Regions from separate parts of the Homo sapiens genome. Here region 2 is linked to region 1. Evidence: fine-mapped expression QTL. A gene starts in region 1. The other region holds a variant in brackets. All regions are shown on one strand. Distances are from middle to middle.

Region 1 (15,449 bases):
CTGTGCCTGCATCAGGGCCTGGCAAAGGGACCGGAGGTCCCCAGGGAAGGCCAGGATGGGGGCAGGGAGGTAGCAGGTGCTAAGGGGACCGAGGGGCACTCACACGCACATGTGTGGCACACAGGCGGTGTGCTCTAAGGAAGAGGCAGCCCAGGTCTTCCACCCCCTCCCAGGTCCCCAACCTTGGGACGCGCCATCACCTGCCACAGCTCAGCCTCAACCATGCCTCTTCTGAGAAGCCCCCACGTGCACTGTTGGGGCTTCCCAAGCTGCACACCCGGCAGGGACACTGGTTTCCTGGCACCTCCAGCCCAGCACAGAGGCCCACGGAGGCAGGTCTGTGAGGGTCATGGCTGAGCATCACGTGTACTACGTGCCCACCAGGACCCAGCTGCTCATGCACCTGTCTCTGTGACCCGGCCATGGGGCAGACATCTGCCTGCGTGGCTGTCCTGCCCCCCTCACCCAGGTGGGCCCTGCTCCCGGGGCCGGGCAGTCTCAAGCACTGACCTGTAGAGGTTCTCAGCGCCCGTCCGCATCTGCAGCTCCTTGTCAATCTGCTGGTGAATCTGGGCCCTGCGGCTCTGCAGCTGGCCGCACTGGATCTGCGTCAGGGAGTCACAGCCCTGCAGGGAGGCCACAGGCGATCACAGCCCGACCCCGTGGCGCCCGCACCAGGCTGCGCCTCGCCAGCCACTGAGAGGAGTGCATCCTGCCCATGGGTAACGGGATGGTCACCATGCGCTGGGGCTGGAGCTGGCCTCACAGGGAGGGGCTGGACAGAACTAGTGTGAACACAGGCCTGGCCAGAGCAGGACAGGAGGCAGTCAATGCAGAAGGACGTGGTCGGTGGGGTAAGCTGCTGACTCGTGATGGGGGTCAGCGGGGGAGGCTGGCACCTGCCAAGGACACCAGAAGCCAGGGTCTCACCAGGCAGCCTGGACAAGTAGGGGCTCCGGGAGCCCTGCAGGAGGCGGCCCACTGCTCCTCACAGCCTTCCTTCTGCGCTTCTGGATTTCATTCTGGATCCCCCCCTTGCCCCTCCCAATTTTTTTCCCATCCAACTCACCCACGCCTCCAAATCATTCCCATGTGGGTTTAGGCGTGGGCTCAAAGGACAGGGTCCCTGAGGCTCTGGGGGCGGCCACTGGCCCCCGATGGTTGGTGCAGAGGCTGCGGTCTGACTTTGGGAATGGTTCTCGAAGCGAACGCACACCCGTGCCCTCCCTATCCACAGAGAAATGACTCTGAGCCTTGCACCCAGACTGCAGCCCCGCGGCCCTGCCCAGCACCAGCCATGGCGAAAGAGTGGGGCGTGCCCAGCGGGGCCCCTTCTGGACTTTGATGGCTCCTGTGTCGTCAGTGGTGCCAGCGTGCTGGAGCTTACATTTCACTCTAGGGAGATCCAGTTTCATGCCTCAGCCCACCCCACCCTTGTGGTGTTGGGGTCCTGCCCACATGATCCTCACGTGTCCCTCCCTCTCACCATGGCCTCCCAACCCCCACTCTTCCCCGTGGCCATGTGGGAATGCCTGGGTCTCCACCCGGACAAGATTATTTGCAGCTACCTGTGGCTGTCCCCTGGGTGGGCTCCCAGGCGTGGGCTGGCTGGCTTGCCTCTCCAGCACCCACTCCTTCCATGCTTTGAGACCCACAGTGCTGCTCAGGGCTCACTGCTCAGGGACACTGACTCCCACCCAGCCCTGGGGCGAGCCTGGTCTGAGTCAGGCGTGGCCAACCTGGCCATTTCTGCCAGTCAGCAGCAAGACAAGGCCTCTGGTGGCTCCTGGGACTGCTTCCCGCCCTTGTCGGGAGACAGGACCTCTTCTTCCCCAGGACCTTGTGGCGTCTGAAGGTGAATCTTGCCACCATGAAACTGACCTACCACTGCATGAAGCTGCGGATTCATGGGGCCAACGTGCACACGCACTGGGTCTTCCCCTCTGTGGACCCGACACCCTCTCCACGCACACACGTCTCTCAGGCCTTCCCGTCTTCCCCGTAAAGAGCTCACACGTGTTTTCCTGGGTTTTCTCCTAGATATCTGGAGAGAGTTCTTTTTGCTAATGTGAACGAGATCTTTGTGTGCATTTTAATTAGTTTATTCCCATTATACAAGAAAGGTTTGATTTCCTAGACAGAAGGCCTGCTCGTCCAGCCCCCCAAAATCACAGCAGCCAGCTGAGCGGGTGACCATCTATTATGGGTGAATTGTGTCCCCACAAAAGACAGGTTCAAGTCCTGACTCCCAGTACCTGTGACTGCAATTTTTCTAGAAATAGGGTCTTTGCAGATATAATGAGTTAAGATGAGGCCACCCTGGAGTAGGGGGTCCTTAATCGCAGTGACAAGGGTCCTTATACGAGGTGGGGAATTTGAACACAGTCACATGGAGGTGGCCATGGGAAGGCAGAGACAGAGACTGGAGGATGAGGCACCGTCCCCTGGAACCCACGCCATCCCCCAAATCCCCGCCCCGTCCCCTGGAACCCGCGCCATCCCCAAACCCCCACACCGTCCCCTGGAACCCACACCATCCCCCAAATCCCCGCCCCGTCCCCTGGAACCCGCGCCATCCCCAAACCCCCACACCGTCCCCTGGAACCCACGCCATCCCCCAAATCCCCGCCCCGTCCCCTGGAACCCACACCATCCCCCAAGCCCCCGCCCCGTCCCCTGGAACCCGCGCCATCCCCAAACCCCCACACCGTCCCCTGGAACCCGCGCCATCCCCAAACCCCCACACCGTCCCCTGGAACCCACGCCATCCCCAAACCCCCACACCGTCCCCTGGAACCCACACCATCCCCCAAGCCCCCGCCCCGTCCCCTGGAACCCGCGCCATCCCCAAACCCCCACACCGTCCCCTGGAACCCACGCCATCCCCAAACCCCCACACCATCCCCTGGAACCCGCGCCATCCCCAAACCCCCACACCGTCCCCTGGAACCCACACCATCCCCCAAGCCCCCGCACCATCCCCTGGAACCCACGCCATCCCCCAAGCCCCTGCACCATCCCCTGGAACCCACGCCATCCCCAAACCCCCACACCGTCCCCTGGAACCCACACCATCCCCCAAGCCCCCGCACCGTCCCCTGGAACCCACGCCATCCCCAAACCCCCGCACCGTCCCCTGGAACCCACGCCATCCCCAAACCCCCACACCATCCCCTGGAACCCGCGCCATCCCCAAACCCCCACACCGTCCCCTGGAACCCGCGCCATCCCCAAACCCCCACACCGTCCCCTGGAACCCACACCATCCCCCAAGCCCCTGCACCATCCCCTGGAACCCACGCCATCCCCCAAACCCCCGCATTGTCCCCCAGACACCTGTGCCATCCCCCAAACCCCTGCGCCATCTGCTGGACACCCACGCCATCCCCCAGACACCTGTACCATCCCCCAAACCCCTGTACTGTCTGCTGGACACCCGCACCATCCCCTGGACACCCAGGCCGGCAGCCTCCTGCTGAGTGCTGGGGTGAGGGAGCCTGACGGAGGTCCCTGAACTGAAGATGAGTTGGCGCTTAGGGGCCGGAGGGAGGGACACAGGCGGCCGGAGGGATGGACACAGGCAGCTGGAGGGAGGGACACAGGCAGCCGGAAGGAGGGTGTGCCGGCCCAGGACCCTGGCCTCCCCCAGCCCAGCCCTGCCCCCGTGGACACCACCCAGCAGCGGACGGGCCGATGTGCACTTGGGAACCCTCACCCTGCTCCCGTTTCTCACTCCCGCCTCCTCCAGAAAAGAAATTCCCTCCAGAGCTGCTTCAGGGACTCGGGCTGGAGAGGCCCACAGGTGGGAGAGGGGCATGGGCGCCTCAGATCTGAGAAGCTCCCTGAACCTGAGGCCCGCCCACCCCCGCCTCCCATCCCTACCTTTCCCACCGGCGCTACCACCTCGAGGGCCTCTGCCCAGTACCTAGGAGACCCCCGTGCCACCCACCGCAGCTACACCCCCTCCCCGCAAAGGCCCCGCTGCAAGGCTCCAGCAGCTTTAAGGGCTCTGGCTGTGCGACGGGCATCAGACACCCAGCCAGGTCCCTGCTCCCCTCCTGGCCCCAGGAGAGCTGCGGGGAGCCTGGCCCCTTGGAGCCCCACAGGCACCTGCTGTGGGCCTGGTCCATTCCTCGGCCTCCCTACCCGCAGTGCTCCCTGCAGGCCAAGTGACTTCCCGGCCTACAGGCGGAGGAGCAGACCCGAGCCGGACCTTTGAGGCTGGGTAGACCTTGGAGGTGGGCGGCCCATGCCCCACTTTCCACACTGGGTTGAAGGTTGAGCCCAGTGGAAGGGGCATAGACACAGGCGTTCAGGCCCCTACTCCTGCTACAACCTCCCCACCCTCTGGAGACAAAGGTGACCTGGAGCTCCCCACCCCCACGTCCACGGTGCCCTGACACCCCACTGTGGCCATTTCCGCCTTGCATTAGGAAAGGACAGAGAGGCTGTGGTCTGTGGGGGTCCCGAGAGGCAGCCACACATGAAGGGCCTGGCCATGCCTCGATGGAGAGGGACGAAGAACAGAGAAACAGCCCCCCAACCCTGACACTGGGGCTCCTCTGCCCAGGAGGAAACAGTGTGGCCCTGGCCAGAGTGGGGCTGACCTGGGGACGGGCAAAAGGCAGAGATAGTTATCCCAGCCCAGGTCTGGGAACAGCAAAACATCAGAGCAGGGCCAGACCTCCACTCTCCCCCAGGATCCCCTGGCCCTGGGCCAGGCAGTCCCCAGGGAGAGGTCACCCACCTGGAGCAAACCAGCTTTTTCCCTTCAGAGCCCTGGCCCTGGGCACCCTGTATGCTGACAGCCACCCATCTCAGGTACCCCTCTCCTCTGCCCCCACTGAAGTCTCACCTGAATGCAAGAACTGGAAGCCCCAGGAGGGTGGAAGCCCAGCACCCACCTGACCCACCATCTCTGCCCCCCACTGATGAGGGAACAGAATTCAAAGGGCATTGCTGCACAGGTGTCTCCTGGGACACAGGGCTATAAGCAGCACGCACGCCAGAGGAATCATAGACTGGCCACTCACGGCAGGGACTCCCACTCTCTCTGATGCTCCCTGGGGTACCCAGGCACTGGTGCTTCCTGAGCACCCCTCTTCCTGGAGCCCAATCTACCTGGGCAGGGGCCTGGGAACCTGTAACCAGCACCCAGAGGGTGCTCCTGTCCAGCCAGGCTGGGGAACCTCAGGCTGACCCACTCGGCATGCTGGAGACCAGGTGAGGGGGGCACAGCCACCCTGCCCACCTGCTGCTCCAACGCTCTCCCTCTGCAGCCTGCTCCCCCTTCTCCCACTGGCCTCCCCAGGAAACCACAGAACCTTCTGCATACAGCCAGGCTGTATTCCTTGTGGTCCTCCCCCGGGAGCCCCTGCAGCCCCTGCGGGAGGGACGGCAGCTGGGTTGGCCACCCTGGGCCGTGCCAGGCTTCTCCCCTTCCCAGCTTGGCAGCCTTGGCCACTTACTCACCCTGTTCATCAGACGGGCTGAGGCCCAGGGCTTGGGAGGCACCAATGGCAGGACTCCAGCTGTAGCACTGGCCCTGGCACCAGGTAAGCGCTTGCTGGAAGCCTGCTCTCATCACGCCTGGGGCAAATACAAGTCACCCAGACCTGTCCACAGGGCCTCAGGCCCAGGTGTGGCCTCTAAGTGGATGAACGACCGACCCCTGACCCACTGAACTCTGAGCTTTAGGGCCAGTTTGGGGGCCAGCCTGATGGGGGTGGAACAGGCCTCACTCTAGCCCGGCAGCAGGCATCGGGGAAGACTTTCCAGATGGCAGGACAGCCTGAGTGGTGCGCGTGTGACACAGGGCCTGCCTCCGCCCCACTGCCACCTCCCACGGGCCCCTCCCCAGTACCCTGACTGTGGGGTCATTTCTGGACGCTGTGAGAGACACGGCAGCCTGGAAACAGCTTCTCCCCAACTTTCCAAGGTGGCAGCCCAGGGAGGGCCAGGACAGGGAGCCCAGGCACAGCCCCCAGCCTGAAAAGCGTCACCTCCGGAGCCCTCTGGGACATCTTGTTTGTACAGCCTCCCAAACATTCCACCCAAAACAACATGTGCCGTCCCAGGCCACCTGCAGGCATGGCCGCCCTGACAGAGCAAGTTCATAGGGGGCAGGCACAGGCTGCCTCTTTCCCTCCAGTGCCCAGGAGGTGCTGCAGCCTCTGGCACGCCTCGGGGTGGGCAAGAAGGGCGTCCTTGAGGGCTACGGTCAGCATCACCAGCCCAGTGACCTGAAGCCAAACCCTGGCTGATAGCACCGCCTCCTCCTCTAGGAGACCTAACCCCAAACACCAAAGCCGAGTAGAACCAGCCCAGGGACAACACAGTCTGACGTCCCAGAGGGGAGGAGGGCCGCGCGCTATCAAAGGCTCACCCGGGGCGAGGAGCAGGAGCAGCCCGCGGCTGAAAGCCCGTGGCGGGCGTGGGCGCCCAGGGCCTGGCAGGAGGACTGGGGCAGCCTCGAGCTGGTCCGCAGGGAACAAGCAGGCTCTGGGCTGCAGAGCAAGGCCCACAGACGTCCCCTCCTTCCCAGGCACAGACTCAGCAGGTCTCCACAGCCCTGCCCACCCCTCCCACTTGCCCAGTCAGCACCCCGGGTTAGGGACTTCAGAAGGGAAGGAGGTTTGGGAAGTGAGAAGAGGCCAGCCGGGAAGACCTCTCTCGGTTTCCCATACCCAGGAGGCTTCGCTGCCCGCTGCTACCAGTGCACCCAATGGGCATGCAGTTCCTGAGCGGATGCAGAGGGAGGACCGAACTAGGGAAGGAGGCTGTACAGGTGCCGGAAAGGAACACGATGGCGGGTGTGGGGAGGGCGCTCACAGAGCCCAGCCCCACATCCGCCCAGAAGGGGGACACGAGGAGGGCGTCCCCCCAACCCGCTTCAGCGGTGAGGATGATCCAGACTTTGGCTGTCCGCATTTCCCGGCTCACATGAGTGGCCTGGAAGCACCTCCACCGAGCTCAGAGGAGGAGGGACGCAGGCTCTGGCCTCAGTTTCCCTGCCTGCGTCCGGGCCGAATGAGACGTAGGAGGGGGGCGCCCGGAACGCGCCTCGAGGGGGGGCAGGAAAAGGCCGGGATTCCGGGCCCCTCCTCCCGCCGCCGCGCCAGTTCTGCGCACCTGCAGCCGCGGGCTCTCCTCGCCGGCGCCCGCGCCGTCCGGCCTCTCCTCCAGGATCATCGCCGCACCCGCTGCGCTGGGGGTCCCTCGGGGTCAGCCAGCCCGCCGCTCGCGCAGCGCTCCGCAGCCGGGCTAGGGCCGCCCGCACCACCTGGGCCGCGGGCTCCTGAGTGCCCGCGCCGGTCCCCGACTGTCCCTCCTGAGTGGGGGCGGCCCGCGGCGCGGCTGGGCGGGGCACGGGTCTGGCGTGCGAAGCTGGCCATTGCCCAATAGGCGGCAATGCCGCTTCGACGGACAGCTATATCAGCCAACCAGAGTTCCAGGAAGGCGGGCTCTGGACGGCCAGCTCCGCCCGCCCGCGGGACGGTAACCCCTGGCAACCGCGGCCGGAACGCCCGCGGCTGGCTGGCAGGTTGTACTGCGCATGCGCCGCGGCGGCCGCTGAGCGTGCGGGAGAAGTTCGGGAAACGGAGAAAAAAACTATACGGAACGTCCCAAGCTGAGAGTCAGGGCGGACCTGGACTCGGCGCGCCTAGCTCCTCGGCTCCCTTTGCGGGGACTCCAGGAGTCTGCCCGCTCGCGCCGTTTCGTCCTGTCACCCCGGCAACGGGACCCTCTAAGAGGCTTGTTCCAAAAATGTTCACAATGGGGTTTTTAAAAACGGTTTTGTTAGGGACAAGTGCTTGTGTGAGTCCTCCGACAATGCCTGCTTTCTTCTCTCTGCCCGCGGAGCGGAGGCTCCAGGCCTGGCCCCAGTCCGAGGCGCCTCTGTCGGTGTCGTCCTGCTTCCAAAACCGGCCTCCAGAACCCGCCTCCTTCCAGAACCTCCGTCCAGAACCCGCCTCCCTCCAGAACCTCCGTACAGAACCCACATCCTTCTAGCACCTGCCTCTGGAACCCACGTGCTTTCAGAACTACCTGTTTGTAGAACTTGTTTCCAGAACGAACCTGCTTTCCGAATCTCTTTACTTCCAGAGCTTGTTTCCTGGACTGACCTATTTTCAGAACCTACTTTCAAAACCAGCTTGCCTCCAGGACCACCTGCTTGGAGAACTGGCCTGCAGCCCCAGGACTGGACGACCTGAGACTGCACAGCTCCCTGCGGGGCTCACCCGGCTGTGTGTGTCCTTCCGGGCCTTCCATACTTCCCTAGGTGTCTGGTGACTCCGGAGCCCGCTCGGATTTCGTGTGGGTCTCGCCTCAGCTCAGAACACACCCTTTGAAGAGCAGGAAGGCCAGGGCACAGGCGGTAACCACGGCTCCTGGTCATCAAGTTCCTCTGAAGCCCAGGTCTTGTCCACGTTCACTGCCCCACCACAGGCCCAGCGGAGCCTTGGAGCTGAGCCCTGGGATCATTCTGGTGCCTGTGCTCCCGGCTCCGCAACAAGCACACAGGAGCCTGTCATCCCCAGATCTAAATCCTGAAGGCTAAGCTCCGTGGTCTGCCGCAGCCATCTGCAGCAGGCCCCTCCCAGCAACAGCCTTCTCATAAGGCCCCTGCCAGCCACGCGAAACCTCCTGGCTAGGGCCTGTCTTCCACTCCTGGCCTTTTGAGACAGGGCCTCACTCTGTTCCCCAGGCCGGAGTGCAGTGGTACGATCACAGCTCACTGCAGCCTCCACCTCCTGGGCTCATGTGATCCTCCCACCTCAGCCTCCTGAATAGCTGGGACTACAGGCTTGCACCACCACACCCGGCTAATTTTTGTATATTTTGTAGAGACAGGGTTTCGCCACATTGCCCAGGCCCAGGCTGGTCTCAAACTTCTGGGCTCAAGCAATTCATCTGCCTCAACCTCCCAAAAGTGCTGGATTACAGGGATGAGCCACCATACCCGGCTTTTTTTTTTCTTTCTCCTGGCCTTTTGGGGCCCTTGAAGTGTCTGCTCCCTGGGAGCCCTTCAGCTTGTCGTCCACTTGGTGGGTTCCCACCCGTCCTTCTCACTTCTGCCTGAATCACACAGGCTACATGAGACCTTCACCCACCCCCTTCGCCAGCAGCTCTGTGGTTCAAGTTTCCTCAAGGTTAGGGGCTCCTGGCCATCTTACCTGTGGGCCTGAGCATGGGCCGATGCTTCCAAAGTTCACACTGGGTGCACTTGTGTGGGGACTTCCATGTGAGTCATCTCCTTGCAGGCTGCCAAGGTCCTGTACAGCAGAGACCCAAACCCTCTTAGCAGTCTTCAGAGTCAGCTATGTGTACAGGAGGCATTACCATATCAGTGACTGTCAGCAAGCATGTGTGACTGAAATGGTATCCAGTTCTTACGTATTTGTTTTGCAGGCTTCTTGGTTCAGCAGACAGAGGCCATTGGGAAGTTAAGAGAGGCTCTCAAACTTTGAGGGTCATAAGACTTCCCCTCCCTGCAGGGTGCTGTTTCCTGAAGGAAAATATTCAATTACTATTTTCTTTATTTATTTATTGAGATGGAGTCTTGCTCTTGTCGCCCAGGCTGGAGTGTGTGCGTGTGCGTGTGTGCGTGTGCGTGTGTGTGCGTGCATATGTGCGTGTGTGCGTGTGTGTGTGTGTGTGTGTGTGTTGGAGGGGGGTGGTGCTGCCTTTTTCTTTGCATGCTTCTGTGTTACTGGATTTGGCACAGCAAGAATGTATCACTGCACTCAAAAAATTTAGAGTTTCCTTTTTGTTTTTTTAAATTATTTTAGATTTGGAGGTACATGTGTGGGTTTGTTACATGTGTATTGTGCACTTCTGAAGTTTAAAAATTTAGGGGGAAAAATGAAAGGATGGGAGGTGAGAAAGTAGAGGAGAATTTTGGTGTGACAGGCAGGGAACTGGACAGCGGCGGGAGGGGCACGGCAGTGAGCGCCGGGACCTTTTGCAGATGAGGTGATAATTGCTGATGGGGCTGCTTTATGCTCGTTTTCTCTTTTGTAATTTATAAAGAAAAAAAAATTGAGACAGGGTTTCGCCCTGTTGCCCAGGCTGGTCTTGAACTTCTGAGCTCCAGTGATCTGCCTGCCTTGGCCTCCCAAAGTGTTGGGATTATAGGTGTGAGCCACTGTGACTGGCCTTTTTTTTTTTTTTTGAGACAGGGTGGCTCTCTGTCGCCCAGGCTGGAGTGCAGTGGTGTGATCACAGCTCACTTCACTGCAGCCTCAACCTCCTAGGCTCAGGCAATCCTCCCACCTCGGTCTCCCAAGTAGCAGGGACCGCTTGCATGCGCCACCACATCCAGATAACTTTTGTATTTTTTGTAGAGATGGGGTCTCGCTATGTTGCCCAGGCTTGTCTCAAACTCTGGGCTCAAGCAATTGGCCCACCTTGGCCTCCCAAAGTGCTGGGATTACAGGTGTGAGCCGCTGTGCCTGGCCTGCTTTATGCTTTTATATGGACCAGTACTTTGCAAGTGTGAGCCTGGCAGACTCTTGCTGCAACCAGGAACATGCAGATTTTCCAGATGGGCAGGAACCTGGGCTCCTTTCTGAGCCTCCACATGTCCTGGGTGAAGACCTCAAGGTCTGGAGAGACTGACTGACTCACCCAAGGCCCAATGGCTGTGAGCGGGAAGCCAGGACTCCTCACAGCGCCAGCTTCTTCCATGCATGCCAGCCCATCTGCAGAGCCCGGTCAAGCTCAGGGGAACGCCACCACTGAACCAGAGAGGCAGCCAGGAGGAGGGGGTCTAGATAGAGAAATGTGGAAAAAGCAGCTGATTCCAGAAATTTCCTGCTTGGCCTGGATTAGGCCATGCTGGGGACTGGCTGCCCCTTGCCCAGTGGGTGCTGGGGCATTCAGGCTTGGGGTCTTTTAGGTCAGCCCTAAAAGTTGATGATTTGATGCTGATCGCTGGTACTTACTTCAGCTTTCCTTCTGGTTGGAAGCCTTAATTAGTGGAGGTTGCTGACACTGTTTATGCGCATCGGTATTTTTTTAGAATGTGGAGTGGAAGAGGTGGGCTTTGGGGGACTGGCTAAACCCCAAGAATTTAACTGGCCGTGTATTTTGGCCACTGTTGCGCCTGTTAAGATCTTGGAGTGTGGGTTTGCACCTGTATTTAGAGGTGCACAAACCCACACAAATTCAAGGATAAATAACTGCAAGGCCCGAAGAGAACACGCTCTCCCGCTGCACGCAGGCTGCTCAACTGTGATGAATGGAGTAACAGGTACCACAGGGCGAGCAGGACGCCTTCATCAATGGTGGTAATAGCCACCAATGCATCATCTGTGGAGGCAACAGGAGGGACGGCTGGGGCAGAATCAACAGAACGTGAAAATGAATTGTTTGTAAATACAATCAACAGTGTTATGTTCGTGAGAAAGCCATTCATCATTCAGAAACCACCTTTAGTAAAAGATGCACCTGGCTTCCCGGTGAGACGGGGCCATCAATCCCTCCCCAGTCACAGGGTCAGCTCGGGGCTGCCTAAACCCCCAGAGAACAGACACACATATTTATTCTTATTTGAAAATAAGAGTTGTTAAAAAAAAAAAAGAGCCACTGAGAACATTAGCTTGCCGGGAGCATGGTAGAAGGAGCCACATGGGGACAAAGAGAGCTCTTTAAAGCCCTCATCTTCTGGGTGCCCTGCCAGGCCCTGGTGGGGCCTCCGTAAGCAAGGAGCACCCAGCCTGCTCTGGGACCTTCCCGGGCTGTGTGTGCTTATGTCCCTCCCGGCCGCTGAGGGACCTTCCCAGGCTGTGGGTGCTCATGTCCCTCCTGGGTGCTGAGTGTGCTTAGGGAGGGAGGGAGGGAGACGCCCATGGTTGGCCTGCTGGCTTCTGGAGAACTGCACTTTTCTGGCAAATAAAAAGAAAAGGATATGGGGAAGGGGAACACATGATTGTCCTTGGAATGTGGCAGAGTGGCCTGCTGTGGACTTTCCTCTGGTTGCCAGTTTCATTCTTAGGACAGTGCCTTGGTGAGGGTGCCCCGGGCACAGCACACTGGGTTTCTGCAGTGGGCACTTACTGGCACTGATCCCAGCAGCTGGATGCACCTGTGGCGTGTTTTATACAACTGAAGCGACCATGGCCTTCTGTGGTCCAGCCTGGTGCAGAGCCCACCGCCATAGAGCAGTGATACTGGAACGTGTGTGAGGGTTGCCGGTGGGTTCCACGGGGCGGTGGGAGGAAGAGGTGTAGAGGACTCCGACACTGTTTTGGCCTTGGCAGCTCAGAGATGGCTGGTGTGACCACCATACGGGGACGGTTTGGGAGGAGGAGGTTTCGGCAGGCAGAGCCTTGGGTTTGGGATGCTGGGCTGGAGCTTCTCTCACACAGCTCAGGGGAAGGGTCCTGAAGGCTGCCGAGTCTCCAGCTCAGGGGCCAGGCTGGAGGCCAAGGTCCACACTGTAGACGTCTTTGCTATACAGTTGCTGGGGACAGAGTGCCAGGATAGTTCACGACAGTGGGCCCAAGGAGGAGGGCAACAGAAACAGGGTCAGGTGGCCCCCAGGAGCTCAGGGAGGAACCAGTTCCAAGGGAAGCCAGTGACCAACACATGCGCCATCCTGCGCCATTGACAGCAAGACCAGGCTGCCAAGAGTGGAGGAGGCTGGTGGAGACCCTGTTGGAAGTGGTCTCAGGGGGCTTTGAGAGTGAGACCTTTTCTTTTTGAGACAGGCTGTCTCATTCTGTTGCCCAGGCTGGAGTGCAGTGGTGTGATCACAGCTCACTGCAGTCTTGAACTCCTGGGCTCAAACAATCCTCCTGCCTCAGCCTCCCAAGCAGCTGGGATTACAGGCATGAGAAACCATGCCTGGCTCATTTTTGTATTTTTTGTAGAGACAGGGTCTCCCCATATTGCCTAGGCTGGTCTCGAACTCCTGGGCTCAAGTGATCCGCCAGCCTCATGAAAGTGTTGAGATTACAGGCATGAGCCACTGCACCCAGCCAAAGAATGAGAGTGCTTCAACGGGGATTAAGGTGAGTCAGAAGAGCAGAGACGGCCATAGGGAGTGGGCACATTTGAATTCTGAGGACAGGTGCAGTACTGTTTGTGGGGCCAGGGGAGGGCTGATGGGTGGCTGGCACTTAATAGGGGGCGTGAAGTGTTCAACCACGGTAACAGGAGAGAAGATGGAGGGGAGCAGAGGTTTGGTGGGTGGGGGGCACAGGCGGGACAGATGCCGTGTTGGGAGTGTGGGGTACCTCTGTGGATTGTCCCCAGGTGTCAGTGACACAGGAAGCAAGGCCTCTGCCCAGAGTGGCCAGGGAGGGGAAGCGGGCAGGACGGGCTGAGGACAGGGGCCGGGGCCCAGCCGAGGTACATGGAGGCTCAGAAGACCGAAGGCTGGGCTGGACCAGGGCTTAAAGGGAAGGAGAGGGGCAAGGGCCAGCCCCGTGGTGGCTCAGATGAGGATTGTGTCTCGCTGAAGTATTGTGATGCACACAAGAAAAACGTTCTTTTTTAAAAATATTTTATTTAATTTTGAGACGGAGTCTTGCGGCCGGGCATCATGGCTCACGCCTGTAATCCCAGCACTTTGGGAGGCTGAGGCGGGCAGATCACGAGATCAGGAGATCGAGACCATCCTGGCCAACGTGGTGAAACTGCGTCTCTACTGAAATACAAAAAATTAGCTGGGTGTGGTGGTATGTAACCCGGGAGGCAGAGATTGTAGTGAGCCGAGATCGCGCCACTGCACTCCAGCCTGGTGACAGAATGAGACTCCGTCTCAAAAAAAAAAAAAAAAAAAAAAAAAAAGAGACGGAGTCTTGCTTTGTCGTCCAGACTGGAGTGCAGTGTTGCGATCTTGGCTCATAGCAACCTCCGTCTCCTGGGCTCAAGAGATTCTCCCGCCTCAGCCTCCCGAGTAGCTGGGATCATAGGCACGCGCCACCACACCTGGCTAATTTTTGTATTTTTAGTAGAGACAGGGTCTCACCATGTTGCCCAGGCTGGTCTCAAACTCCTGGCCTCTAGTGATCCGCCTGCCTCCGTCTCCCAAAGTGCCGGGATTACAGGCATGAGCCACCACACCCGGCCAAGATAAAAGTTCTTAATTCCAAGGACTGTTAATCATTTGTGACCTAATCTAGATTCAGTCTGGATGGAGTCTCTGATGTCATTACTGAATACCTTGTTGTCAGACATTTTTGGATACAATTTATAGTTTTTGAGCCCTTCCCAGTCAACTGAGGCCAAGGCTTTTTCCCCAAATCTGAGACCACCTAGGCATAGCTACCCTCGAAAATGTACATCATCAGGAAATATGGATCATCTATTTACCAAGCAAAAGAGGGAGCATTATTCAGTGGAATCAAAACCTTCTTCTCCCTGAAAACCTGTTTCTATTTTCCACGTGTGACTAATTTTTAATCTCGGTGACTGAGCGGTAATGGTGTTGTCACTGATGCTGACGATGGGCTTTTTAAAAAGCATATGATCTATGCTGCCTTCATAGTATCCTTTTTTGGTTATTGTTTCTGTGGCTTTCTGAGTAAAATAAGCTCAGCGTCTGTGGCTCTAGCAACCCCGGCGCCATTGTAGAGGAGATGCCATCTGCATGCAAAGGTTCTGCGGTGCCTGCTCCACAGAAGGCTGCCTCTCCTGGCCATTACTCACCACAACAGGAAAACAGCTATCTGCCTATGTCCATTTGTTAAGAAGGCAGTAACATGGCATCTTTAATAAACTCAAATAAATGCACTAAAACTTATCACAAAATAGCCAAGTTGTAAAGTGAAGGAGTGTTTGTAATAACCTCTTCTGTCTTCCCCAAGTGTACGTTTTCCAGGCAGTTCTCCTTACCGTGACAGGGCTTTAGGGCCAGAAGACAGCGCCACTCACCGGACCACCCAAACTAGAAGCCTGGGCACCATCCTCAACTCGCTCATTCTCATTTCCACACCCTACTAATTATCAGACACCTCCCCTCAACCTCTGCAGGCCTGCGGTTTAGGCTCCTACTGTCTCTGGCCTGACCAAGCCCTGTTTCCTCCTGACCTGCGAGCAGTGTGCCCACTGGTGCCATCATCTCTCTGCAACATACAGGGGATCATGTGGGGGTGGTGCTCCCCGGTGCCCGCACCATCGTGTCAACACGCGCCAGCCCTTCCCCAGCCCCACCACGCACACACATGCAGTGCGGCTGACGCTCTCAGCACCCTGCCTTTCCCATGCACCCCAACGCCCCCCCGCCCCCAGCACCTGCAACTTCCTGCCTGAGCGCTTTTCTCAGTGCTTAGGGGTGCTGGCCTATGCCCGGGGCTTGCTGGAAGTGCAGTTGGCAGAGGTGGGGCGGCAAGGATGGCCCCTCAAAACCAGAGCAAACCCACTCGGAACTGTGTCCTGTGCTCTCCCAGAGGCCTCCAGGAGGACTAGTCCAGGGGCCCCGGCTCTCACCTGCTCCC
Region 2 (13,064 bases), 24 kb after region 1:
TTTTAAATGATGAGACAATTAGGGAATTTGAGCACTCCGTGGATATTCGATAATAAGGAATTTGTTTTTTGAAGTGTGATAGTGGGCTGGGTGCTGTGGCTCACGCCTGTAATCCCAGCACTTTGGGAGGCCTAGGCAGGAGGATCACTTGAGGTCAGGAGTTCGAGGCCAGCCTGGCCAACATGGCGAAACCCCGTCTCTACTAAAAATACAAAAATTAGCCAGGCATGGTGGCAGGCGCCTGTAATCCCAGCTACTCAGGAGGCTGAGGCAGGAGAATCACTTGAACCCGGGAGATGGAGGTTGCAGTGAGCTGAGACCGTGCCACTGAACTCCAACCTGCATGACAGAACGAGACTCAGTCTTAAAATAATAAAAGAAAAGAAAAGTGAAAAGAAAGAAAGAGTGATGGTGTATAGTGGTTGTGTTCTTTAATTGTTTTTGTGGAGAGCGTGATGAATTTGCCTGTCATTCTTGCACAGCGGCCATGAGAATCTTCTCTGTATTGTTCCACTTTTAGCGTATGTGCTGCCGAAGTGGGCACGTGGTTGTGGTCTTTAACGGAAGAGTTTGCATCTTTGGACATAATTGGAGATGTTTGTGGGTGAAACGATGTGCTGTCTTGGAGTTGCTTCAGAATAACCCAGTGGGGAGAGAAGAGGGTGGGCACTCAATGGAAGGAGATGGGATGTGAGCTGATAAGTTTTGAATTGGTGTAATGGGGTTGTGGGAGTGTATTAATACTTGTCAGACTCAAATGAAAATACACAGATGAGGCCCAGCACGGTGGCTCGTGCCTGTAATCCCAGCACTTTAGGAGGCTGAGGTGGGCAGATCAATTGAGGTCAGGAGTTCGAGACCAGCCTGGCCAACATGGCGAAACCCTGTTTCTACTAAAAATACAAAAATTATCTGGGCGTGGTGGTGAGTGCCTGTAGTTCCAGCTACTCGGGAGGCTGAGGCAGAAGAATTACTTGAACCCACGAGGCAGAGGTTGCAGTGAGCCGAAATCATGCCACTGCACTCCAACCTGGGTGACAGAGCAAGACTCTGTCTCAACAGAAAAAAAAAAAAAGTGTACAGATGAATCTCTAAACAAAATGTTTTATTGGGAAAAACAGAATTGCAATTCAGGCATACACACAGACCAGAGTGGTCTTTGGTCCCAAGAACGAAGAGCATGCTGGGGGGTTTATTGGAAAGAGAAATGTTACCTATTGTTTTGAAAGAAAACACATTGGCACTAATGAAGTTTTGGGGAGCTGGCAAGCTCAGATTGGTGAAAGACACAGTAGGTAAACCTAGTCTTTGGGTCAGGTAGGTTGTTCCAACAGCCATTAGGTACACCCGGTTGTAAGGTTGCAGCAGGTCATTTCAGCAGCTAGACTTGCAGGGGGCAGGGGGGTGGGAGGGGGGCTCTGGGAGCAGGTGCCGTGTGCCTGAGAGCTTTTCCTGGGTCCCTCGACTCTGATTTGGTTGGGTGTGGTAGGAAAAGCTCAATTTGTATAATGAGTTTTCATAAGCCGTTCTCTCTCTGTTTGTGTGTGCTTGAGATTTTCTCTAATGAAACATTAAACAGAAGAGGCTCATGGCCCGCCTGTTGGTCTCTGGTGGGTAGTTTTGTGGTGAGGAGCTGAGAACCTGCCTCCTGAGGAGAGGATCCTCAGGTGATTTGGCTGCTGCCCTGGAGACCGCGGTTCTGCCCTCTAAGCCAGCTACGAGCATTCTGTGCAGGCAATAAGCAATGCCTGGTCATAGCTCACAGTTCTGTAGGTCAGATGCTCAAGTGGGTTTGGCAGGATTCTCAGCTTAGGGTGAGTTGGGGTGTGCTGAGTCGGGGTACGCTGGCCGGGCTGGGCTCCTGCCTCAGGGCACCAGGCTCCTGGGAGTTGGGTCAGTCCCTGTAGCTGTGGGACCAAGGGCCGTTTTCTGGCTGGCTGTCAGCTGGCGTCCATTCTCCATGCCCCTCCATTTGGCCCTTCATCCTCACAGCCTGCAGAGGCACCTGAATCCAGTCTCTGACTCTCCCTGTCACCACCTGGAGGAAACTGCTTTTCAGCGGCGCATGGGGCTAGATCAGGCCCACCTGGAGGGCCCCCACCCCCCCCCACCCCCCAGCTCTCAGTGAGTACAAGAGTGACACAGGATGAAATATGCTGGTCTTCTTAGGACCCTCCTGCCACACCCCTGCAGGGCACCCCTTTACATGGCAGGATTAACAGGCTACACAGCTGGGCTTGTGGGGGAGGTCGGTGGGGGGTGTCTGTCAGGTGAGTGTGGGACAGAAGGGCCACAGGGTCACATGGAGTCTTGAGCCGTAGCTGCGGCTCAGGGCATGAAGTCCTGGGCCCTTTCAAAGCCGTGACTGGGTTTTCTATCAATTCTCTTGTTGCCCCAGGTGGTCTCATGGTCTTACCACCCCTTGTGCTGTCCTCTGTGTGGACATTTTCTTGTGATTTTCTCACATGTCTGCTGCTCACTATTTGTGACAATGACTGAGGGACTTTGGAGCAGGGAGCTGGTGGGAGTATCTCTGGATGGGGCGGGCCTGGGTTTACCAGTGGGCTTTGTCCTGAGTGGGGCCTCTCCAGGGTGGTAGGGCTTAGGCGGCAGGACTTTCCAACTCCAGGAACTCCACTCTTAGCACAGAAGGAGGCCCTGGGTGGAGGTCCCCTCTGGCTTGCAAGGCTGCTGTGGGATGTGGAGGCCCTGGTCAGGCCCCACATCTCCTGGGCACCCTCCATGGCAGCCACCCCTCCTCACCCTCCTCAGCGTGGGGAGACCCCTGGCTGCTACAGCTGCGTCACAGAGGAGCCTGCTGAGCTCCAGGTACCCGTCCTCACCTCGGTGCCTGAGCTTCGAGGCCTGGCCTGCTGTGGGGCTCAAAGCGGTGGTCCCGCACAGCCCACCTTGGACTGAGGGTGGCTCTGCCCTCTCTCCCATTGTGCTTTATAAAGTTCCTGGATTGTTTCAACTCTTCCCCGCTGGCTGGCTGGCTGGCTGGCTGGCTGGCTGGCTGGCTGGCTGCCTGCCTGCTGTGGTTTCAATGTTCCTTCTAAAACTCAGGTTGCAATTTAGTTGCCATTTGTAATACTTAATACTAAATAGTAACTACTTTTAAGAGGTGAGGCCTGGCCAGGCACGCCTATAATTCTAGCACTTTGGGAGGCCGAGGCAGGTGGATCACTTGAGGTCAGGAGTTCAAGACCAGCCTGGCCAACATATAGTGAAACCCCGTCTCTACTAAAAAATACAAAAATTAGCTGGGTGCGGTGGCTCATGCCTGTAATCCCAGCACTCTGGGAGGCCAAGGCGGGCGGATCACGAGGTCAGGAGATCAAGACCATCCTGGCTAACATGGTGAAACCCTGTCTCTACTAAAAATACAAAAAAGTTTGTTGGGCATGGTGGCGGGCACCTGTAGTCCCAGCTACTTGGGAGGCTGAGGCAGTAGAACGGCGTGAACCCAGGAGGCAGAACTTGCAGTGAGCAGAGATCGCGCCACTGCACCCCAGCCTGGGCGACAGAGTGAGACTCCATCTCAAAAACAAAACAAAACAAAAATTAGCCGGGTGTGGTGGCGTATGCCTGTAATCCCAGCTGCTTGGGAGACTGAGGCAGGAGAATCGCTTGAACCTGGGAGGCGGAGGTTGCAGTGAGCCAAGATCACACCACTGCACTCCAGCCTGTCCACAGAGTGAGACTCCATCTCTCAAAATAAATAAATAAATAAATAAATAAATAAATAAATAAATAAATAAAGAAGTGAGGCTTTTGAAAAGTGATTTGGCTCTACCCTCATAAGTGGACAATGTTGTTATCTTGAGAGTAGATTTCTTACCATGGGAGTTGGTTCCTGATCAAAATCGTGATTTTGCTTAGTGTCCTCCCTCTGACCTGTGCGCTAGTTCATCTTCTGCCCCTGGGGTAATGCAGCAAGAAGGTCCTTGCCAGATGCAGCTTCTTGATTTTGGCCTTCCCAGCCTCTGGTGAGCCAGATAAATTTGTGTTCTTTATAAATTGCCCAGTCTGTGCTATTTGTTACAGCAGCAGAAAATGGACTAAAATACATCCCCCTTCCTTCTCTTTTTCTCTTTTTTAAGATGAGGTCTTGCTGTGTTGCCCAGGCTGGCTTCCAGTTCCCGGGCTCTAGTGATCCTCCCATGTCAGCCTCCCGAGTAGCTGGGACTACAAGCATGCTGCTATACCCAGCACAGCCCCCTTTCTTATTCTCTTGTGCTGCTTTGTTTGTTTAAAATATATCTTTTTTTAAAAAATCATTTTGTGAGATCTTGGCAAGGGAAAGCAAATTTGAGGGGCAATGCCTGGTCCAAGAACTAAGTTTCTGGGTGTCTCAATATCCCATTAGTTGGGTGGTAAAAGTGCTCTATGAAGATAACCCCTTTGGGTGTTCTGTTCCTGCACTGCCTGTAAGGAGTTTGGAGCAGCCTCATATTTAGGAACCTGGCATTTCCTCTTCACTCCTGAGCTTCAGGAGGCCTGGCATTGCCTTCGGAGCTGTTCTGGAGGTGAAACAAACCCTTGGCCAAGAGCCAGAAGAGCTTCCCATTCTCCTGGGCTCTGGAGTCACACAGGAGCACTTTGTGAGAAGTGAACTTTACAGACACATTATCTACACGTGATAAACTGTACTCGTTGACAGTGACCATTGGATGAGTTGTGGCAGAAGTGTCCCTCTGGAAAGCCACTGCCACACTCAGAATACAGACATGTCCACACACACTCGACCATCACCCCTGCCCCCGGCATCTCCCTGGTGATGATTTCTGCAGGTGTTTCCTGCGGATGTGCTGATAGGGCAGAATCAGACCCTCCACAGTCTACCCCATTAACAGTGGGTTGTTAGATAACGGTTTGTTTGAAAAGCAATGCAATAGTAAATGCTTTGTGGGACTTCAATTTAGAAAAAGTGTCGATGATTTGGATTTTGCCATTTTACTGATGACTGACTTCATCAGTATAGTTTAAGTGTGAATTACTTTATCTCTTCTCTGTGTTCTGGTACTATGTAATGTATTCTTCTATAATTTATGAAAGCCCTGAGTTGGCGCTAAACTTTTCTACTAAATTAATGCAAGCCTTATCTGTATTTTAATTTAAAACAGTGAAAAACTCTCTGCTGAAGTGCCAGCCAGAGGTGTGGGAGTATAGCCCGAGAGGCCCTGTTCCACGTGGGGTGTGAGTGACACCTCCCAGCCGCGCGTGGCAGCAGGAGCTGGAGGGGCCAGCCTGCTTCTCTGTGTCTGTGTCGAGTTTGCAACTGTGTCCTCCGGAGACCAGCAGACGCCTCGGGCTGGCATTGCTGGGCTCCTGTGCCCAGTGCTGGTTCAGACCTTTTCAGCCACCAGGGATGCCCTGTGGACCTGCCTCCTGCAGGGCTCTGCCAGGTCAGGCATGGGGGTGACCTCGGCTGCCAGTGGGCTTGTGGGCTCTGCCCCTCAGTGCGTGGCTCTGCCCAGTGAGGGTAAGCTCCTCGGGAAGGACTGGCTGGTGCCTGCAGTGTGGTACGTGTCTGTGTCCGGGGACTGGGACCTGTCTATGGGGAGTCTCCCATGCATACTCTTTTACAAGCCCCTGTGCTGGCCCAGGTGGAGCCAGGATTGTGTCATTGAGTTGGGATGAGGTAGAGAATGAGTTACCTTTTAACACGGCCCCTGGGTCTCTTATTGCTTAAAACTTTAACGTTTCCTTCCTTCTGATTTTTCTACCCCAGACTGCAGCCCGTGCTGATGACTGTGGCTGTGATGAATTCGTGCCTGTGACCACAGCTGCTCTCCAGGTGCTGGGTGGCTCCTCCCTTGACGCCCATCCATTCTGTCTCCTGCCTGGCCTTGTTCACTGTCGCTCATCTCGCTCAGCTGAGGTCCCTCCTCCTCCGCTGTTTGGTGTCCTTGCCAGTTAATCACCCTTAGGTGCTGGGCCCTGGACTTACGGACAACATGGAGCCTGGCTTGTTGACAGGACAGTGTCTGCGCCTCTCCGTCTACACCCCCACAACAGGGGTTACTGGGGAGGGGGCGTCTGGGAGTGACAGAGATCGCTGTGGGGTCTGTGTGACCATCAGCTGTCCCTGTAGCTGGGGAATGGTGCTGCGCGGCGGGCGGGTGGCACAGTGAGCAGCCCTGGGTCCTCACTGAGTAAGGGAGTGGCTGGGGAGTGGGGAGGCTTGCCTTTGTATCCTGGGTGGGCATGGGGCTGGGGGAGTCACGGAGACCTGGAGGACCAGCTGCTGCTGGCCAGTGGGTGGTGGTGTCTCAGGGCCAGCCCAAAGCCTCCTGAGCTCCTGCCACTGCTACTGAGTGCTTCCTAGCCTGTCCCTCTGGTGTCCCGCCACTCCTTCTTCCTCAAGCAGGAGGGCTGAGCTGGGCTGGGGCAGAGGGGGCCTCCCACGGCTTCCCTGTGGGACTCTAGGCCTCTGCAGTCAGCACATCCTGAGAGGACCGTGGGTGTCTGCTGCCCTTCCCTCCCTAGTCCTCTCGTTTCGGTGAAGCGGCTCCTTCTGTCTTCTCAAGCACAGACCTTGGTGTCATCTTTGAGGGCCCCATCCTTGAGGGCCTAGATTCCACATGAAATCCATCTATGAATCCTGCTTTCCAGCTGTGTTACAACAGGGCCTCCTCTCACCTTTCTCGGCTGGCCCAGGCCTCTGCCTCAGTAGGGCTCTAACATGATTTTCAGAAATCTCACAGGTTTTTCCTTGCAAGACGCGTGTTTCACTGTGTCTCCAGTCTGCATGGATGTGGGCGTGTGTTGTGATGGTCAGATGGTGGAGTGAGAGCAGCCATAGTGTGAGGTGTGGGTGAGGGTGGCCAGTCAGCCGATGAGTGGGAGCGTTCAGACCGGGGTGCCTGGTGCCCCCATAACCTCCTCGGGGTTCCCAGGGATGGCGCCTCTGACCCAGCGTGCAGCCCGAGGTGGGCCCCGTGCCATTCCCACTTAAGCGAAGTGTCTGTTCCTCTCTCTGTTCAATGTGGGTTTTGTTTCTGAATATATTTTCTCACACTTCTTCTTCAAAAGTTACTTTGGAAAGACTGTTTTTCCAAATTGATGATCTCTGAACTGCTGTGGTGTTGGTGGGGACAGAGATGGTCCCAGAGGGGACCTGGGAGCTGCCTTTTACTGCCTGCCCACTCTTCCCGAGGCCGGGAGGGGCCTGAGATGTGTTCGCAGCTTCTGGCCTCGGGCGGGACTTCCCACCGCCAGCTGGTGCTGTGCTCAGAGTCAGAGGTTCCTTGATGCCCAGCACGTGGGTCACCAGCAGCTTTGCCAGGTGTACTTTTGAAAAATGAGAAAAGGGTCATGAAGAGCTTGGGAGGCTTCCATGAGGTTGTTCTGACTCTCTGTTGTTAGAATGGCAACCCTAAATGAGCCGCAGAGCTGCATGTTTATGTATACATTTGAATTCTAGATTTGCACAGATCACCACGCCAGTGAAGACTAATCACCATGAAAAGCCACCCAAGAAAAAAGGCCAAGTCGGCATCTTAAATAGGAAATGAATGTGTGAACATGATTCTGATAAGCAACTTCCCAGGCACTCATGCCTGATGAATGCTTATTCTTGCAGATATGACAACACAAATGAACTTAGTGTCTGATTTTCTTCTAAGATTTTATGGTGAAATAAGTTAGCAGGCCAGGCGTGGTGGCTCATGCCTATAATCCTAGCACTTTGGGAGGCGGAGGTGGGTGGGTCACCTGAGGTCAGGAATTTGAGACCAGCCTGTCCAACATGATGAAACCCCCTCTCTACTAAAAATACAAAATTAGCCGGGTGTGGTGGTCGGGAGGCTGAGGCAGGAGAATCGCTTGAACCCGGGAGGCAGAGGTTGCAGTGAGCCGAGATCACGCCACTGCACTCCAGCCTGGGTGACAGAGCGAGACTCTGTCTCTAATAATAATAATAATAATAATAATAGAGCAAGACTCTGTCTCTAATAATAATAACAGAGCGAGACTCTGTCTCTAATAATAATAATAACAGCGAGACTCTGTCTCTAATAATAATAATAATAATAGAGCGAGACTGTCTCTAATAATAATAATAATAATAGAGCGAGACTGTCTCTAATAATAATAATAATAACAGCGAGACTCTGTCTCTAATAATAATAATAACAGAGCGAGACTCTGTCTCTAATAATAATAATAATAACAGAGCGAGACTCTGTCTCTAATAATAATAATAATAACAGCGAGACTCTGTCTCTAATAATAATAATAATAACAGAGCGAGACTCTGTCTCTAATAATAATAATAATAACAGAGCGAGACTCTGTCTCTAATAATAATAATAATAACAGCGAGGCTCTGTCTCTAATAATAATAACAGAGCGAGACTCTGTCTCTAATAATAATAATAACAGCGAGACTCTGTCTCTAATAATAATAATAATAACAGCGAGACTCTGTCTCTAATAATAATAATAACAGAGCGAGACTCTGTCTCTAATAATAATAATAATAGAGCGAGACTCTGTCTCTAATAATAATAATAACAGCGAGACTGTCTCTAATAATAACAGAGCGAGACTCTGTCTCTAATAATAATAATAATAACAGAGCGAGACTGTGTCTCTAATAATAATAACAGAGCGAGACTCTAATAATAATAATAACAGAGCGAGACTCTGTCTCTAATAATAATAATAACAGCGAGACTCTGTCTCTAATATAATAACAGAGCGAGACTCTGTCTCTAATAATAATAATAACAGCGAGACTCTGTCTCTAATAATAATAATAACAGAGCGAGACTCTGTCTCAATAATAATAATAATAACAGAGTGAGACTCTGTCGCTAATAAGAAGAAGAAGAAGGGGGAGGAGAAAGAGGAAGGAGGAGGAGGAGGAAGAAGAGGAAGAAGAAGGAAGAAGGAAGCACTAG[A/G]TGGGGCAGTGGTGTCGGGATAGTGCTCTGTGACCTTCCCTTTCTGGTGTTTTGTGTCTGGGTCAGGGTGGACGCTGGCAGTATGGCCTGTTGCGGCCTGCACCTGCTCCGGAGTTGGGAGCAGCCCCAAGCTGACCCCTGGCTCCTTTGTTCATTGCCCTTGGTTTCTGCTCCTGACAGAGGCCACAAGGGCTGAGATCAAGAGGCCATTTTCCAAAGCTGAGTTAAAAGCATCTGTTAGGCCCATGGAGGGCAGCCATTGCTGGGGTGGGGAAGGTGAACCTTCCCTCCTCCTCTGGGGTCTCCGGGTGGGTATGTTTGTGGCCCTGTGGCCCCTCTCATGGTGTGTGCTCTCTGTTCTGGGCAAGGTCCCAAGGCCACACGGAGGTTCCTGCAGACAAGATGAAGATGGCCCTTGGTGGATGTGCCCGGGGTCCTGACACCCAAGAGAAGAGATAGAAGGGCATGGCCCTGCAGGCGGTGCCCAGCCGGAAGGGGGCTCTGGAAGAGGACCTGGACTGTGAGCTCACAGACACTGGCCGGGGCAAGGGCTGTGTGGAAGAGAGGCACAAACTGAGAAAAAAAAAAGAATATCCGAAGAGAAAGGGGAGAAAGGGCTTCAGGACAAACGTGTGGGGAGATGCACTGGGGCGGCAGCACGAGAAGAGGGTGGCGGGGACGCTAGGGGCAAGCCTGAGACCCTCAGCTGTGGGGAGCGGAAGAGTGCAGGGGCCGCCGTGGGAGCTGGGGAGGAGCGCGCTCTGGGCAGTGGGATAGACAGAGCAGTTCCCACAGAAGAGGTGCGAAGCGTGGCCAGGAGCAGGTGCACAGTGAGGGCATGGTGCCCACCCCAGCACGGAGGACGAGCCAGGGCCACACTGAGCAGAAAGGAGAGTTACGGGCCAGGAGACAAGCACAGAACGAGGACGAGGATGTAAAAGAAGTGTGGGTGGGAAAAACCAAGAAAGAAGAAAGTGACAAATTAGGTAGTGGCACAAAAGTGGGACAGGAGGCCTTGGTTTCCAGAAAAGAAAAGAAGAGGGAGACAGACAAAGCTGGGGAAGAGGGGACTCGAAAACCAAAGAAATGAAAAGCTCAGGACCTGGAGGAAGACAGAGAAGTGCAGTGTGGGAGTGAGCTGGACGGGGCACCACAGCCAGCGGCGTGGCCTCGCCATTGCCCTGGGGCAAAGGGTGACTGGGAGGTGGGGGGCCTGGTGAAGAAGCCCCAAGAAGAGAAAGCTCAGGGCAGCCGGAAGCCAGCCAGAAGCAGAGAGAAGTGGAAGGAGGGGGAGCCAGTTGATGCTGGGGTGTCCAGAGGGAGAGAAGAAAGATGGCCAGGAGGCAGCTAAGCCACAGGAGGAGAGCCAGAAAGGGTGGGAGAAGGCCGAAGGCAGCAGGTGGAAATGGTGTGTACCCTACCCCACCCCTTCTCTCCCTCCATGTCCTGACGGGGTGGTGGGAATGCTGTGTAGACCAGTGCTGGGAGGGGGGGAATGCTGTGCAGACCGGTGCTGGGAGGGGGGAATGCTGTGTAGACCAGTGCTGGGAGTGTGGGAATGCTGTGTAGACCAGTGCTGGGAGGGGGGGAATGCTGTGTAGACCAGTGCTGGGAGTGGGGGAATGCTGTGTAGACCAGTGCTGGGAGTGGGGGAATGCTGTGTAGACCAGTGCTGGGAGTGGGGGAATGCTGTGTAGACCAGTGCTGGGAGTGGGGGAATGCTGTGTAGACCAGTGCTGGGACGGGGGAATGCTGTGTAGACCAGTGCTGGGACGGGGGAATGCTGTGTAGACCAGTGCTGGGAGTGGGGGAATGCTGTGTAGACCAGTGCTGGGACGGGGGAATGCTGTGTAGACCAGTGCTGGGAGTGGGGTAATGCTGTGTAGACCAGTGCTGGGACGGGGGGAATGCTGTGTAGACCAGTGCTGGGAGTGGGGGAATGCTGTGTAGACCAGTGCTGGGACGGGGGGAATGCTGTGTAGACCAGTGCTGGCAGGGGTGGAATGCTGTGTAGATCAGCGCTGGGAGCAGGGGAATGCAGTTTAGACCAGCACAGGCCCACTTCCCCTCCCTGTCCCTGGTGGGGGAGGCGGGGAGTGCTGTGTAGACCAGTGCTGGGAATGTGGGAATGCTACAGTGCTGGCCTTTGCCTGCCCACTGTAGGTTGCCAGGGAGCCTGGGTGCCCCCCAGAGTGCCCTCTTGCATCGGCAGCTTTGAGCTGTGGGTTGTAGGGTACTGGGAGCAGCCAGCAGTAAGTGAGTGTTTGCTGTGTGTCTGGCATTGCTTTTGGTCAGTCCTCTATGAAGTAGGTACTGCTATGTCCATTTTTCAGATGAGGAAACTGAGGTACAAAAAGGTTAAGTAACCGGGCCAAGGTCACATGGCCACAAGTGGGCCACACTGCAGTTGTAGCCGTCACCCCTGCTGTGTCCTGTACGCAGCCACGAGCTGCGCAGCTCTCCCAGTGGAGACGTGCTGGGGGTGTGATACGCACGCCTGCTTTGAGAAGAACGATGCATACCATCGCATTAGCATATTATGTTGAATGACAGTATTTTGGTTGAAATAGTTGAAATTAAGTATATTGTTAAGGTCAAAGTCACTGTTTCTTTTGCAGTGTGGCTTCTGGATGGGGTAAACTCCACCACTGCTCGCAGCTGTGTCTGCTGGGCGGCGCCGCCTCCCACCTGGGCAGTCCCTGCATAGCCTTGGAGCTCCGGCTTCTGGGTGGGAAACGTCTTTATAGGTATCAGCTCCTGCATTCAGCACCTGTTTGATTCTGGGGAAATTCTTTAAATTTTCTAAGCCTAGTTTCTCTCATGCAAAACAGGGGTCCTCCTACCTGCTGTGAGGAAGAGTGCGTGAAGCCCTGTCCCCGCTCCCTTGGGCAACCCCTGAGTGGCCTGGGGAAGAAGAGGGCACAAGGGGAGGAGGCCGCCAACCCCAGGAATATTGGCAGACAGTTCATAGAAACCCCTTCTGGTCTGCAGGCCCAGACTCCCCAACTGTGTCTCTGGCCTTGTGCAGTGGGTGCCACTTTTCCACGCCCTCCCCAGCATGTTGACTGCAGCCACCCAGGTGTGAGGTGACCTCACTGTGGGTTGGATTTGCATTTCTCCCATGGCTGATGATTTTGAGCATCTTTTTACAGGATTGTTGGCCTTTTATATCTCATCTTTGGAGAAATGTCTATTTAGATTATTTATCCCCCTTTTTAAAATTAACATTTTTTTTTTTTTGAGACGGAGTCTCATTTTGTTGCCCAGGCTGGAGTGCAATGGTGCGATCTCAGCTCACCACAGCCTCCACCTCCCGGGTTCAAGTGATTCTCCTGTTTCAGCCTCCCGAGTAGCTGGGATTACAGGCATGAGCCACCACGCCTAGCTAATTTTGAATTTTTAGTAGAGACGGGGTTTCTCCATGTTGGTCAGGCTGGTCCTGAACTCCCGACCTCAGGTGATCCGCCCGCCTTGGCCTCCCAAAGTGCTGAGATTACAGGCGTGAGCCACCAAGCCCAGCCAAAAAAAAAATTTTTTTTTAAGAGATGGAGCCTGTTGTTCAGGCTGGAGTGCAGTAGCCTGATCATAGCTCACTGCAGTCTTGAACTCCTGGGTTCAAGCAATCCTCCCACTCAGCCCCCTGAGTAGCTAGGACTACTGTAGCAGGACACGTTGCAGACAAAACCTCTCGGACACCGGTTTTAGGGAATAAGAGGTTTTAATCAGCTGGGAGCATCAGTAGAATCGCCTCTCAAGATCCGGGCTCCCCGAGGTCCAGATTCCTGTCCCTTTTAAGGGCTTACAACTCTAAGGGGTCCATGTGAAAGGGCCGTGATACATTGTGCAAGTGGGGGCTACGTAACTGGGGCCGCATGCACCGGTGATCAGAACAGAACCAAACAGGGAGTTACGCAATGCTTCCTCATAAGAAGTCTGGAATCTGTAGATAACAGAAGCGATTAGGTCCGGGCCGATCTTTAACTACCAGGCCTGGGGTGTGGCGCCGGGCTGTTTGACTATTGAATTTCACTTCTGCCTTTTCTTTAACTCCTACTTTTTCTTTTCTTTGAGGCAGAAATTAGGCAGAAGACAATATGAGAGGTGGTCTCCTCCCTTACTACAGGTGTACACCATCATGCCTGGCTAATTTAAAAA

Evidence for each region.
Region 2: its variant is fine-mapped to the expression of RHPN1-AS1 in whole blood (TOPMed, PIP above 0.99). The same link has a PIP of 0.9 or more in blood mononuclear cells.

The regions. Positions count from the first base shown.
Region 1 is chr8:143,360,730-143,376,178 of GRCh38, reverse strand. It overlaps RHPN1-AS1 (RHPN1 antisense RNA 1), which reads left to right and starts at 7,544. Exons shown (of 1, transcript NR_026785.1): 1 at 7,544-9,556. It overlaps RHPN1 (rhophilin Rho GTPase binding protein 1), which reads right to left and starts at 7,303. Exons shown (of 15, transcript NM_052924.3): 1 at 7,132-7,303; 2 at 511-626. The coding sequence starts at 7,191. RefSeq lists enhancers at 5,235-6,141, 6,142-7,049, 7,790-8,345 and silencers at 6,837-6,886, 7,087-7,546, 7,557-7,626.
Region 2 is chr8:143,337,652-143,350,715 of GRCh38, reverse strand. It overlaps a transcript of TOP1MT not described here and the pseudogene RNU6-220P. Among named protein-coding and RNA genes, the nearest start is that of TOP1MT, 9.3 kb to the right of the region's middle. RefSeq lists an enhancer at 10,842-11,579. The variant A/G (reference allele first, on the strand shown) is at 8,910.